Regions from separate parts of the Homo sapiens genome. Here regions 1 and 3 are each reported to be linked to region 2. Evidence: microRNA targets listed by miRTarBase, many of them from high-throughput screens and not tested one by one. Region 2 holds a microRNA gene; each other region holds the end of a gene's coding sequence.
Evidence for each region. The annotated mature microRNA hsa-miR-5572 reads GUUGGGGUGCAGGGGUCUGCU and lies in region 2 at 2,202-2,222, opposite strand. An mRNA with a match to its seed (bases 2 to 7 or 8) in the 3' UTR can be bound and repressed. Matches are read on the target gene's strand: a 7mer-m8 pairs with bases 2 to 8, a 7mer-A1 pairs with bases 2 to 7 and ends in A, and an 8mer does both.

Region 1 (5,060 bases), not on the chromosome of region 2:
AGACATGATTCTTATTAGACAACTACTGACCAAATGACAACTTCATCTTCAATGACCTTGATTTGGAATCTTGAAACTTACAACGAGTTCCTAATGAGAAAGGCATCACTCTTGGTCTCCATGTCTAAATATATTGACACACTCACTTCAAGATATGATGGCTGCCAAAATCAATATCCCAAGGCTTGAATATTTATGGGAGTAGGCATAAATTCGTGATTATATTCATGGTAATGAATATAATAAATCCTATGCATAGCCAACATCCAAGTTGAACTGGGGATGAGCAGGATACACAGAAAGCTCCTCACCTGCTTTGAGCAAGTTTTTCTTGCAAAGTTGTAATATGAAATACCTTAATCAACAAATTTCTTATAAATGTTTATATGAGTAGAAAATCCCTCAATTTCATTGTCACTCAAAAAGTTGATTATCTTTGCATTCTTTTGCTTGACATGTAAGCAATATGCTATTACATTCTCTAAGCCTATGCCAGGCTTTTAATTCACCTGACCATAATCCTAACCCAGGGGATAGAATTCCAAGAATATAAATTGGCTCAAAAGTAGTTCCAGTAGAACTTTACTGATTATTAAGGCAACTCTTAACCTCTTGAGGTTGGCCTGATAGAGAGAAACCATGTTCCTCCTTAATGCCACTACGAGAGAGATGGGGTTGGGGTGGGGGGAGAGGAGGAGGCGGCGGCGCGGCGAGAGAGAGAAATACTAGGCAATAAGACCCATAGATTAGAGCTAATGGCACTAATTATGTTCATACCTATCCGCAAGGAAGCAGGCAGGAGCAGACCTAATGAGCAATCTGACTGTGCTCTACATTTGGTCCACTTAAAATGAGAAGAATGTACAAGTTTTAGGGTTTTCTGTGTTGTAAGTTCCCAGAATAAACGTAGTTACAGGGTAGGGCTGCAGGTTAGGGACTGCCTGGAAGATAGGATGAAATGTATTTTGTTCATTTGATTTCTGTTTTTATTTCATCTTGAGCATGTGAAAAATCAGTGGCTTTTTAAACTTTCAAAGTTGACTGCCTAGACTGATAAGTTTAAGAACACACAAGTAAATGTCAACAGTCTCTTGTGTTGCTGACACACTCAAACCAGTGCTAAAACAATTTTTGTCTTAACTCTGAATTATACATGTTCAGACCTGCTATTGAAACAAATGCATTTTGATATTTGGATTTTTCTAAACTAAACACACAGCTGTGCTAGGCTCTTTGCTCTGTTAGCCTTCTGACCATTTTATAGCTCTAAGCATGTGATATTTTCTCCTAGAAGACTCCGAAGTGCTAGAATATTTTCAGAGGGCAAAGCCTTATAATAATTCTTACTGGAAGCAAACTAAACAAAAACCAAGTTCCAGAAAACATTGCTTCTGAGAAATTCTCAAATATCATCAAGAAGAATAAGTGGTTAACTTAAAAACAAAACTATGGCAATATGTTAAAGTACAATACTGCAGTAAGGGTAGAAAACACATCTAAGGTTTCACCCTTAGTGTTAAGCTTTTTAAAAGCAAAAAGGTCATGTGTATCAATTTGCAGTGTACTAAAATTGTGTTCAAAGTTTATTTCAAGTCACAGAAAATATACAAACTAAGACAATAAAATGAAGTGATTTTGTTCTGAGAGAAGGTGATGGGAGTCCTCCACCTGGCACTGATTTGAGTCATTCAAGGGTTAGGATGCAGGTCATCTTTTTTCAATATTTCAACAAAATTATAGAATTTCCAGATTTCTTGCCAGGTATTTTTGAAAACCTGTAAGAAGAAGTTAGGACAAAGCCATTAGAAGTGAAGACAAAGCTCTCTTCCGGAAAAACTTCAGGAAAAAAAATAAAAAGGCTAGGGGAGGGAGGACAGGCATATAATCAAATCACCAGGACAGATTTGCAAAGTATCTGTCTCCTGCCTCCTGACTCCTCAAAGCAATCAGCCCTTGCAGCAGGGTTTCTCAACCTCAGCACTACTGACATTTTGGGCTGGAGTACTAGTTGCTATTGGGAAGTGGGTGAGGGGGACCATCCTGTGCATTATGGGATGTTTAGCAGTATCTCTGGCCTCTACCCACTGAATGCCAGTAGCATGCCATACTCCCTAAAGTTGTGATGACCAAAAACGTCTCAAGACAATGTCACCTAGGGGGCAAAACTGCCCTTGTTTGAGAACCATTCATCTCTAATGACAACAGTATAGAAGCCTGTCCATGATGGCAGAGATGGATCACAACTAGCTAGGTATAGGATGGAGGAAAACCCAACACTTTAGCCATGGTATGCACAAACACCAGTAGACACACAATAAAATCTTGCCCACATAAAATTGCATAGAACCACACATACATATACACAAATCATGATAGTTTTTTTAAAATGGTGAAAACTGAGTTTGCAGTCAAGTTAACAGTAATGTGCCAATGTCAATTTCTTGGTTTTGCACTACACTGGGTGAAGGGTACATGAGACTCCTTGTACTATTTTTCCAACTTTCCTTGAGTCTATGATTATTTAAAAATAAAAGGTAAAAAAATAGACAAAAACTTTGCCTTGTGGTTAATATGCAAGGCCTTAAATTAAACATCCTATAAGCAAAACTATAATGAAAGAAATTTCAGAAACATTTCTACCTCTACTATCCAGAAACAGTAAGGAGTAATTTTCTCACATTGTAGGGAATGCCTTCTCTGGCTTAAGTAAATTAGTAAAAGAAATAATTTTTATTTATTCCTCTGAATGTAATAGGTAGTCTATACTTTTACTAAAAAAAAAGAATATGTGGGGTTTGTGGAATAAAACGTTAAGGTACCAAAAGTCTACTGAGCCTTCTATCTATGATAGCTTCTCATTAATTCATTTAAGGTCTAAATACATATATGATGCATAGTCGCAGTTTAAATGTTTAAAGACATCACAAGTATGGATTAAAATGATATATTTTGTAAGAGTGGTAATTATTAATAGTTAAATGAGTTCACTATTATATAACATAAGAATAGGAATTATAATATGGATGGGGTAAAAAGTAGAAATTTAAATTGTGCTGTCCTACCTGATAGTGGGGCAACATGAATTTTAAACTGTTTTTAGAAAAAAGAACTGTTTATAAAATACAAAATGCTGGGGAAATTTTTTTTAAAAAAGAAACACTGATACATGTATGTGTAATCAAGTTGTCACATGATTATTTATGAAGCAGGTTACCTGGATCCTTTTTTTTTTTTTTTTTTGACACAGAGTCTCACTCTGTGACCCAGGCTAGAGTGCAGTGGCATAATCATGGCTTACTGCAGCCCTGACCTCCTGGACTCAACCAGTCCTCCCACCTCGGCCTCACAAGTAGCTGGAACTATAGGCGCATCTCACCATGCCTGGCTAATTTTTTAAAAAATTTTTGTAAAGATGGGGTCTCACTATGTTGCTTAGGCTGGTCTTGAACTCCTGGTCTCAAGTAATCCTTCCACCTCAGCCTGCCAAAGCTGAGATTACAGGGCTCAGCCACTGTGCTTGGCCCCTGGATTCTTTCTGCCTAAATGATGAGCAAGAAAAATAAGGGTAGCAGGGTACAGCGATCTCCAAAATATATAGAAACTGATGGTGATGACGGACATTTACTACCTTAAATTATGTGCTACTATAGTTCAACATCAAAATATTCCCTATAAAATAAATACAAGAAACAAAATATTTACACATTTTATTGAAATGCTTTGTATTTTTCCATTTTGACAGGACAGTTTGGAATAAAATAATACAATTGATTGTAGAAGGATACACACCAAACTATATTTAGAGGTTTTGTCTGGGGAATGAGATTGAGGAAACAGGGCTTTTTACCTTTCACCTTCTACATTTCTGTATATGATTACTTTTGTTAAACTGATCATACATTACCTTTGTCATTAGGAAAGATTATAAGCAATTCAACAACTGAACAAACATTGTATAGCCTTACTCTATCCCTACAGGAGCTGACCTACTGAAGGGTAAAGAAGAGTCTAGCTGAGTGGATTGAGGGCCGCTGAGAGAACAATCTTGTTGGTTAAGGTTAAAAGTATATACCCAGAATAGACAAGGAGCTAGTCCTACTCAGATGGGGATTAAGTTTGCTCACCTATCAAGGTGCTCCAGTGGATTTCTGTATTTGTTCCTTTAAAATCAGGATACTCTGCCTTTGCTCAGGAGGCAACATGGCAATCTGGTCTGCAGTCAGTTGTAGAACCTGCATAATCAAAGCAGCCTGTGCAGAGGAAAAAAAAAAGGTAGTGAGTTTTAATGATGGCAGCTAAAAAATACAAAACAAAACAAAAAACCCACCACCAGCTTCTGTCCAAAAAGCTACTGTAGTGGGATATGAAGCAAAATGGAAAAAGGAAGAACATTTCACACAGAAAAAAACCAACAGCCCCCCTCCAAAAAAAATAAAAAATAAAAAAAAACTGGTGAGAAAAGGTACAATGAAAAGAACAAGTATAAATTAAAATACCTAAGATTAGACGATTCAAAACAGACAACTTCATGAACTCAAAGTTCCTGGAGACTAAGATGGTATCTGTGAGCCCTGGAAATCCTTCAAGTTTTAATCCTGTTTTGAAAGTCTCTCTTTTTCACAAATTTTAGCCTTTCCATCAGACATAAGCTCCCCACAATGGTCAAATATAAAAACAGAAAGATATAATCATGGGGAATCTACTATTGTTTTTAGGGATAAAGTAGAAAGGGAAGGAAAAAGGGTGTGGATTTTCAGGTCAATCTGGCCTGAACAAGAAAAACCTGCTATTGGCAGATGAGTGTGAAATATAAAATAAGCTGCCATTTACATCCACTTAAGAACTTCACATCCATTAGGAACTTCAGGACCAGACTCACAAATTTTCAGGTAACAAGATCATAAAAGAGTTCTAAGTTAGAATAAACATCACCTCCAAAGGGACTTTGAAGACCCAGGATCGTCACATGGTAACTGTGAAAAGAGGAATCAAAAAGGCTAGAATTGTGCATAAGGAGGCAGTCAGACAGTGTTGCTTACCTTCTCATGATCCTGTGGAGT
Region 2 (5,071 bases):
GGCCTGGCATTTGTTTAGTGGAGACTAGACAGAGGCATGGAGCTAAAGGCACTGGATGGTTGGGGCAGGGAAGTGGCCTGCCCACCTGTCTCGTCACGGCCACAGTGGGATGCTCCAAGACCTTGCCACGGTTGCGTGTTAGCTCTGCTCCGAAGCCTCTCTTGACCCCATCAGACATAACGACTGTCCTGGCCTGCAGCCACAAGGGCCCCCACGCAGACCATGGCTGCCGCACCTGCAGACTGTCCTGCCTGCCTCCCTTTACCTCTGTCTGTCTCCCCTGACCCAGTCTCTGGACTGTGTCCTTCTCTGGGTGGGGACCAGGTCTCCTGTCTTCCAGGGCTGATTCGGGGCCTGGCACTGAAGGTTTTTTTGAGTAGATCGGTGCCAGATGGTCCCTGGGCTTCCGGGAAGGACTAGGTACCCAGGAGGCCTTGAGTCTATGAGGCCCACCTTCAGGAGGAGGTGAAGGGGTCTCTCCACACCCGGGTGGGGAACCAGATGTGGAGAAGGATCTCACGTGTGACTGCAGGAAGGTGGATGCTATCCTGAGAAACAGGATTCTGGGCTCAAGGTGGTAACCGTGCTGAGTGCCTGGCTGACTTGAGAGCAACTGCTATGGGGTTTCTCCTTCCTCAGACAGGGTGCTGTGCTTCTAAACTGGGTTCCAGTGAACCACGTGGCGAGAATACTTAACAGACGAAGAGGAGACACACTGCAAGTAAATGGGACTAAGGCTGGAGGGACAAGCATGGCCTCAGGAAATGCTGTGCCCCAAGACCTCGGGCTGAGTGGGACGGACGTGCTGCTGTTAGTGGAGGAGGTGGGGAGGGCTGGGCAGCAGATGACAACTCCCCATTGTGTGCTAGGGGCTCTGCACAGCATTTTTCTTTCTTTTGTTTTTTCAGACAGGGTCTCACTGTGTCACCCAGGCTGGAGTGCAGTGGTGTGATCATGGCTCACTGCAGCCTCAACCTCCTGGGATCAAATGATCCTCCCACCTTAGCCTCCTGAGTAGCTGGAATTACAGGCATGCACCACAACACCTGGCTAATTTTTTTTTTTTTTTTTTGTAGAGACAGGGTTTTGCAATGTTGCCCAGGCTAGTCTTGAACTCCTGGGCTCCGGTGATCTGCCACCTTGACCTTTCAAAGTGCTGGGATTACAGATGTGAGTCACCGCGCCCTGCCTGCACAGAATTGTTCATAAGGCTGACAGACAAGCAGTTCTAATGGAAGCTTTTAACTTGCCACGTGGAAATTCAGATGTTTGGGCTCAGATTCACGCTCATCTGAGGAATCAATTCTGTAGAGAAAAGCTCTATGAGCCGCACTGCTGGGTGTCACCCAGTGACCTCACTGTGAGAAAGCAGGCACCAGCTTGGACTTCTTACCAGGACCACGGGTCTCTTATGAGCTTGTCCTGACGTGGAGTGGAACCCTAGCCCTGGGAGACATGCTGAGGAGGTTCCTTACACACACGGAGAGTGGGCAAGGCCCAGGATCCTGAGAAATGCACAGGACACAGCGGTTCCTTAACCCTCTATGGCCTGAGGTTTTGTTAACAAAGTAAGATAGGTGTTTTTAATATTTAAAAGAGACAGAAAACTTTGCAGTGTTATTTATGCAATTGATTGTCTCTATAGCTATTCTCTAGTTTCTTGAAACAAGACTATAAGGTTTTTGACTTGGGGGACCTGAAAATCCTTGCCAGGGCCATAATGGGTTAAAATGGTATTCAGATCACCTCACAGCACAGCAACATCATCCCAATGCCTTGAAAATGATAAAGTCAAATCACAAAGCCAAGGCCTAAGCATCCAGTCTCTTAGGAACACCATAGGCCTCCTCATAGCCAGAGAGAGAGGAGGTGCTTGGAAACCTCCAGACCTTGTTTTGGTAGCTGGGAGCTTGGAGCTCAGCCTCCTGAATTCAGGCTGTTCAGAAAGCATTTGTGCTGGCTTTCCCAGAATCTCACTCCCTCATTCCCCACCTACCGAACCCTGGAGTCCTGTTGGCAAGACTGGAGTAGGCATTCCCACTTGGCGAGGAGGTAGCTGGGCTGGAGAGGGGGCTGTAGGAAGAGGGGTCTGCCGGGTAGGTGTGGCTCGTTCCAATCCCAAAGGGAGATGACTGAGTCTTGCTGGACTGAGATGGGATTTGCTACAATCAGGACAAAGCAAAGAGATGGAAAGCATCACCAGCAGACCCCTGCACCCCAACCGATGCCCCAGGCTGGTCGCAGGGGCAGTGCCTGCTCTGGGTTGACAGTGACTCCCCATGACCCTCTTGTCTGGCTAGGCACAGGCCTGGGATCAGCCCGGTGTGTGAGGGCCCAGGAACTGCAGGATCTTTGGGGCACGTCTGGTTGAAGTTACTCCCCAGGGCTACGAGGATCCGGGCCCTCTGGAGTCTGGTTACCAAGGCCTTGGCATTATGAACACCTAGAACTCCCTCAGCCCAATCAACACCCACCCTCACAGTGACTATGAGGGTCTGGGGATGTCACAAGGGTTGGTGGTTTCATGCCCTCCTGGCGCAGGGGCAGCCAGAGGTCCAGAGTAGTGAGGGGCTCATTCTTGATGAGGTGTCTCAACCTGCCCAACCTTTCCCTGCCAGCTGCCTCAGGGCATGGCTGTAAGGAGAAAAGGCTGCTGAAGTTGCAGGCTGGGCACCTGGCTCTCCGAGAGCCCTGAGGGTGGATGGTGCTCCTGAGTAGCCAGCTGCTGTTAGGGTGGTTGGTTCCAGCTAGGAGCCGACCCATCCTCAGAACCGCAATCCAAAGAAAACACTTCCCAGAGTGCTCTGCCTCTCTGGTCACCCAGGGGAGATGCCCTCACAGATGCCCATACCTGTCCCGGAAAGGGCGGACGACTCCCTGTCCATGCCACCTGACTCTGGTTTAGCTGCCGGGAGATTTGGGACATGTTCTGGCCCGTGGAAGAAGAGGACTGAATATCATTCACTCCAGGCACATGAACCACTGAAGAGCTAGAAAAGAGGAAAATGCATTTATCCCGAGGACACACCTGGTTTGCATGAGTCTACGTGCCCAGCCAACCACACAATCTGCCCTGGGCCATCTTCCTGGCTCTCTCTCCATGCAGCACGTCACTAGAGAAAATGACTCACACATCGTGAGCCTCAAAGCCCCTTGGCCGTCCTCCTCTCCCTTCAGGGCTTCCTCTACACTGCTGAGTAGTCCTGCCATGTCTAGTAGTCTGGTACTTCCTCTCCTCGTTCTCCCCAGGGTCTCCCACGCACTCTTCAGCCCCTATCCTATGCCTGTACATCCTCTGCTCTCAGCAGATGATTTGGTTCCCAGAAAGAGAGAAGCTTCTTAGAATAAAAATCAGTCCCACTGTTCACTCACTCTTTTGTGCTCTGGTTAATTTGTTCCTTTGGGGCACCTATGAGGCTTAAGGATTCAGGAAATAGGTTGCAGGCTGTCAGTTTTAAACGGAAAGAAAAGCTTCTCAATGAAAACCTGCTGGATGGGGCCTAGTCCTGCTACCCAGAGTTTACCCCTCCCACCTTCAGTTCACCTTCGACTTAACTCAGTTTGTCTTTATTAGGCCCCTGCTGTGTGCCGTGCTCTCTGCATGGCCTTTGCAGGCTAAATCTCTGACCCTGCTTAGCTCCTCGGCAGGCACTGTCTGTACCACCAGGCGCTTCTTCCAGGAGATTTTCCAGGCTATGTCGATTACATGAGAAGCTCATCAAAGACTAAAAGGCTGGGGGCAGACTTTTACTTTGTTTCAGGCCCCTCCTCCTGCCTCCCTGGGACTAGCTCAGCATGCAGGGCAGTGCGCTGGGTGCCCATGAATCAGTCAAGTAGGGCAGAATGGGGCTCATCACAGAAGGCTTTGGTAGATTTTCAGCTCCGTGTTAAAAAAAAGGCAAGCCAGAGATCAGCAGAGATTGGGTAAAATTTTACTATTGTATTCTAATAAGTTTCCTATGCTATCTGATCCCTTTTAAAATAGGGAGAAACCAAGAATGTCAGAGACATTCTTGAGCTGATCATTGTAAAACAAGTTCAGTGGCTTATATAAAGGGGACATCATTTCTGTCTTCATACAATCAATTCCTCATTTAACATAAGGGCTCCTTTCCCATTCTCCTTCCTGATGAAAGTATTGCTTCAGAGGACATTTTCTGGTCACTATTGTCTAGTAGGACCCTCTCCACAGCCCCCAGCCCTTGGTGTCCTCCCCAAAACACTGACTGATGAGGGCCGCTACAGCGTAGACGGTCCTAGGAAAGGCGCCTTGGCAGAAAGGGATGGGCTTCTTGGGGCAAAGCGCCAGCCCTTGTGCACAGCCCTCCCTGGGGGCCTCTGGGCTACAGCTGCCTGCCTTAGTGTGGACAGGCAGGGGCCAAAACTGGCGGGACCAGAGAGGGAGGACTGTGGGTGAGGATGCACTTCAGGTGCCAGCAACACCATTCTGCAAGCGGCCCAGGATTCCCTATGGCTGTATTGGGCCCCAGAGTCCTTCATCCCACAGCCTACCCCATCCCAAGCCAGCTCAGATCCTTCGGATATACAGGAAATTCTGCCCATTCCACAGGCTTTAGCCCTAACAGGCATCCTTTAATTAACTCAGTCATTTATTCATTCATTTTACAGACTAGTACTCAGCAAGTGCCTTTTCTATGCCAGGCTCTGCACAGGTGTTCGGACGTTCCTTGGATTCCTTCCCCACACTGCCAGCTGCCCCAAACCTGCTTTTCCTTCCCCATCACTCATCACTGCCCTGTGCACCCTACATTTTTGTTTCTATGACAACAGCGTTACCCAGGCTCTGCACCTCACGCTGGACTGTCTGCCCTGAGCCCTGTCTGCAGCTTCACTCTTCTCCCAAAGGTCATCAGTGATGGTGTCCTCCTCCTCAGCATGGTCCCCACGGCTGCTGCTGCAGACACAGCTCAGGGCAGACAGTCCAGTGTGAGGTGCAGAGCCTGTGTGAGGCCGTTGTCATAGAACAACGTGGTCATCCTCTGTTTCTCCCATTAGTGAGGCCTCCTCCAACAACACCTCCTCCAAGGCTTCACTCAGCACACCCCTCAGG
Region 3 (5,060 bases), not on the chromosome of region 2:
AAGTTGTTATGAAGTTCATGTGCTACCAGTTTTTTAATGAAGACTTTTTAATTTGCAGTTCAGATTGTTGAAAATGTGAGCTGTACATTAGCAAGGGTTTACTGTAAACATGTTATGATTCAGCTTTTGATAAACAATGTTTACACTTTTATTTAATGTCATCCATTTTTCCACAGGGTATGGACAGTGGATTTGCAGGTGGAGAAGATGAAATTTATAATGTTTATGATCAAGCCTGGAGAGGTGGTAAAGATATGGCCCAGAGTATTTATAGGCCCAGTAAAAATCTGGACAAGGACATGTATGGTGATGACCTAGAAGCCAGAATAAAGACCAACAGGTGCCAAGCCATACAACTCAATTTCAGTGTTTACACTGGTGAAAGCAAAGTAGTTCATAGTTTTTTCTCCTTTTCCTTAGATTTGTTCCCGACAAGGAGTTTTCTGGTTCAGACCGTAGACAGAGAGGCCGAGAAGGACCAGTGCAGTTTGAGGAAGATCCTTTTGGTTTGGACAAGTTTTTGGAAGAAGCCAAACAGCATGGTGGCTCTAAAAGACCCTCAGATAGCAGCCGCCCCAAGGAACACGAGCATGAAGGCAAGAAGAGGAGGAAGGAATAGGCACAGGTCTCTCCAAAGTGAATGAACTCTTACCCATAACCCTAATGATGCAAGTCATATGGGGGAACACTTTGTAAATGGTCAGGATAAAAACCAAATCTGGGTGCCAGATCCCAGCACTACTTTTTATTACTGGAGAAATGGGGGGGATAGAAAATTCTACTTTGAATTATTTAGTTTTTTTTAAAGAGTGGGTTGTGTTTGTGCTTCTCCCACCTTTCAGCATTTATAGAACATGCTGCCCCACATACAAAGTCAAGACCACTTACTTTTATGTGACACTAGTAGTTTGGGGTTAATGTTTTGTGTAAGAACAGCTGCATATGAGTAAAGTTACCCCAACCACAGTGAGGAGGAAGATGTTCACATACTGGAACTGTCCTGCCAAATAAATTTTGCCCCTATTGTGCTCTGTTTTAATTTGGAGTGGGCAAAGTAACCTCTTGCTTGGTGCAACTATTTGTTTCAAATAAAAACATTTAGACAAAATTCTCAGTTATGTTAACTTTATTAATAGGCTGCAGTCTCAAAAATCTTTCTTTTCATCATCAGATGTTTGCGGAAGTTTTGGCCTTCTAGTGTGAACCTGGACCTTAAAAAAATAAGCACTGTAAGGGAGGAAAGGCAATGTCTGCAAAAACATTCAAACTGAAAATCACTTTATTAGGGAGTCAGTATGAATAATGAATAACCCAGGCAGTTTTTATTTGTCCCTTGTTCTTTCGTTTTCTCCTCAAATTCCTTTTACCATCTTTGTTGGTATTATGACTCCCTAACCCTCAATTAAAAATTGTAAATCAGACCAGGGGCAGTGGCTCAGGCCTGTAATGCCAGCATTTTGGCAAGCTGAGGCAAGAGGATTGCTTGAGGCCAGGAGTTCAACACCACCCTGCAACATAGCAAGGCCCTGTCTCATTAAAACTAAAATTTAAAATAAAATAGTAAATCAGTTTGGCCCAGGATCACATGGTGGGTAAGCCAAGATTTCAGCCCCAGCTTGCCTGACCTGAAAAGCAGACTGCTGGCCAGGCGCTGTGGCTCACGCCTGTAATCCCAGCACTTTGGGAGGCCGAGGTGGGCGGATTGCCTGAGGTCAGGAGTTTGAGACCAGCCTGACCAACATGATGAAACCCAATCTCTACTAAAAATACAAAAAAAATTAGCAGTGCGTGGTGGCGCATGCCTGTAATCCCAGCTACTCGGGAGGTTGAGGCAGGAGAATCGCTTGAACCCAGGAGGCGGAGGTTGCAGTGATCCAAGATTGCACCATTGCACTCTAGCCTGGGCAACAAGAGCAAGACTCTCAAAAAGAAAAAAGAAAAGTAGACTGTTATGTCCACTGTGTTACATATCTTGCTACCCATTAAAGGGTCATCTTGTACTTTCCTGGACCTTTTAAAACTGGGCACTCTACCACCCCCCATTTTTTTTTTTTTTTTTTTTTTGAGATGGAGTTTTGCTCTTGTTGCCCAGGCTGGAGTGCAATGGCGCGATTTTAGTTCACTGCAACCTCTGTCTCTTGGGTTCTCCTGCCTCAGTCTCCTGAGTAGCTGGGACTACAGGCATGTGCCACCACGCCCATCTAATTTTTTTTGTATTTTTAGTAGAGATGGGGTTTCTCCATGTTGGTCAGGCTGGTCTCAAACTCCTGACCTCTGGTGATCCCCCCCGCCTCGGCCTCCCAAAGTGCTGGGATTATAGGCATGAACCACTGCGCCTGGCCTACCACCGCACCATTCTTTTTTTGTTGTTGTTTTGTTTGTTTGTTTGTTTGAGATGGAGTCTCGCTATCGCCCAGGCTGGAGTGCAGTGGCGCAATCTCGGCTCACTGCAGGCTCCACCCCCTGGGGTTCACGCCATTCTCCTGCCTCAGCCTCCCGAGTAGCTGGGACTACAGGCGCCCGCCACCTTGCCAGGCTAATTTTTTGTATTTTTAGTAGAGACGGGGTTTCACCGTGTTAGCCAGGATGGTCTCGATCTCCTGACCTTGTGATCCGCCCGCCTCGGCCTCCCAAAGTGCTGGGATTACAGGCGTGAGCCACCGTGCCCAGCCTCCACCCCACCATTCTTAACAAGCATTAAGGCAGCTTCAGTTACAAATCTCTCCAAGTCCCCATCATTCCACATTTATGATCTATTTAATTGATACATAATTAAATAGTACCTACATGTATATCATGTATGTATCTGGCATAGAAATAAATTTACCTTTACTCCATCTATAATATGATTTTCCTGTTGTAGTGCATTCCGAAGTCCTTCTTCTGAAGAAAACTGAACCCAACCCAAACCTCTGTGAAAGCCAGTCTCCTTGTCCTAAAAATTCAAAATATAGGAAAAGATTAATCATGAACTTCAGAAAGTTTCCATGAGTTCCAAATCAAACTACCAACTTTTTCATCTGCCAAAAATCGGACTTTTTAATTTAATTTTATTTTATTTTTAGGCAGGGTCTTGCTCTGTCACCCAGGCTGGGGTGCAGTGGTATGAACGCAACTCACTGCAGCCTCAACTTCCTGGGTTCAAGCAATCCTCCCACCTCAGCCTCTTCAGTAGCTGGGATCACAGGTACATACCACCATGTCTGCCTCATTTTTTATATTTTTTGCAGAGATGGGGTCTTCCCATCTTACCCAGGCCGGTCTCAAACTCCTGGGCTCAAGCAATCTTCCCATCTGGGCCTCCCAAAGTAGTGAAATTACAGGCATAAGCCACCATGCCCAGCCAAAAATCGGATCACAGACATTTATAAGTGTCAGTAACCTTGCTTTACACCCTTCCTGATTACCCAAGGCTAAATCCCTGTGTTGTTAAGCTTCCTGTTTTCCTTGCTGCCATTAGAGAAGATACGGGTCATGAGCTTTCTGTGTCATTCTAGATGCAAACCATACTAACAGTAATAGCTAAGGGAAATTTTGATCAGTACTCTTGTTCTAAGCTTCGTTTCTAGAAACTAGAAAATTAAGCCTCAAAGCCTTGTTGCACTCATTTCTGAATCCAGTCACCCTCACCACCACCACGACTATCATCACGTGTTCCTAATGAAAAACAAGAAAAGATAATATTTAGCCCTTACTCAACCTAGTTACAGACTTCTGGTTAATTTAAACAATTTTGCTATTTTCCCTTGTGCAAAAGTTTCAACCTATACATCGCATACGGAAAACAGATTCTAGAGTGCTTGGATGTACCCTGCCCCTCCAGCCCTTCGACAGAAAACAGATATTAAGATGTCTAGTCCCTGTAGATGACAAACTGGTCCTCATTAGTCTCATTCAAGTCATGCTGTGCTTTGCCAAAAAAAACAAAATCTTACAATTGCTCCTCTACTTCAAGGATAACTTTATAAGGATTAACCTAGAAGACGGAAAGTTTCTGGTGATGTCCCAATGATCCATTCATTGTAGATACAACAATTTCTAAAGCATTCCTTTATTGTCATGTGACCACTTCCACAGTCAAAGGCATTAAGAAATTTGTTTATATTAAAACATAGGCCAGGTGCAGTGGCTCAATCCCAGCACTTTGGGAGGCTGAGGTGGATGGATGGCTTGAGGTCAGGAGTTTGGGACCAGCCTGGCCAACATAGTGAAACTCCATCTCTACTAAAAATACAAAAATTAGCTGGGTGTGGTGGCCCATGCCTGTAGTCCCAGCTATCTGGGTGACTGAGGAAGGGGGATCACTTGAACCCAGGAGGCAGCGATTGCAGTGAGCTGAGATCACGCCTCTGCACTCCAGCCTGGGCGACAGAGCAAGGCTGTCTCAAAAAAAATAACTCAGTCCAGGTGTGGTGGCTCATGCCTGTAATCACAGCACTTTGGGAGCTGAGGTGAGTAGACTGCTTGAGTGCGGGAGCTCGAGACCAGCCTGGGCAATATGGTGAAGCCCCATTTCTACAAAGAGTACAAAAAATTAGTCAGGTGTGGTGGCACACGACTAATCCCAGCTACTCAGGAGGCAGAGGCAGAAGGATCCCTTGAACCCAGGAGTTCAAGCCTGCAGTGAACTTGATTGTGCCACTGCACTCCAGCCTGAGTGAGAGAGAGAACCTGTCTCAAAAAAGGAACCAGGATTTCCAACTAGAGTACAATGAATGGAACAAAAAAATATTTTTTTTGTCATATTTTATTTTGTTTTACCAACATCAAAGCCGCCTTTTATTTAAATCTAAGATCTATTCTTTGCAGGTCCTATTTTATTTATGGACCAATAAAAATCTATTCATTTTTTTGCAAGGAACTTTTTATTTAAATGCTCTTGAAAAAATTGAAGTTTTCAAACTTACAGAAAATATTTCATGTCCATAATACATGTGCCCAACTTTTCTATTCAACTATATAAAATTCCATTGCATCAGTGACTTAATATCTAATCAATCCCAGTGATGAACATTTAAGTTTCTTCTTCTTACTTGACATTAAATAATGCTGCTTTGGAA

Region 1: miRTarBase lists CSTF2 as a target of hsa-miR-5572. The part of its 3' UTR that is shown has no 7-base or 8-base seed match.
Region 3: the mRNA of SNW1 is a reported target of hsa-miR-5572. Seed matches in the 3' UTR shown: 7mer-m8 at 955-961.

What each region holds. Positions count from the first base shown.
Region 1 is chrX:100,837,429-100,842,488 of GRCh38, reverse strand. It overlaps CSTF2 (cleavage stimulation factor subunit 2), which reads right to left. Exons shown (of 14, transcript NM_001325.3): 12 at 5,040-5,060; 13 at 4,125-4,250; 14 at 969-1,775. The coding sequence ends at 4,128. Among named protein-coding and RNA genes, the nearest start is that of CSTF2, 20 kb to the right of the region's middle.
Region 2 is chr15:80,578,330-80,583,400 of GRCh38, reverse strand. MIR5572 (microRNA 5572) reads right to left here and starts at 2,298; the gene lies at 2,162-2,298. ARNT2 (aryl hydrocarbon receptor nuclear translocator 2) reads right to left here. Exons shown (of 19, transcript NM_014862.4): 16 at 2,852-2,990; 17 at 1,997-2,162. It overlaps ARNT2-AS1 (ARNT2 antisense RNA 1), which reads left to right. Exons shown (of 2, transcript XR_007064732.1): 2 at 640-3,371.
Region 3 is chr14:77,713,647-77,718,706 of GRCh38, reverse strand. SNW1 (SNW domain containing 1) reads left to right here. Exons shown (of 14, transcript NM_012245.3): 13 at 177-340; 14 at 421-1,108. The coding sequence ends at 619. It overlaps SLIRP (SRA stem-loop interacting RNA binding protein), which reads right to left. Exons shown (of 4, transcript NM_031210.6): 3 at 2,828-2,935; 4 at 1,109-1,211. The coding sequence ends at 1,146. Among named protein-coding and RNA genes, the nearest start is that of SLIRP, 8.1 kb to the right of the region's middle.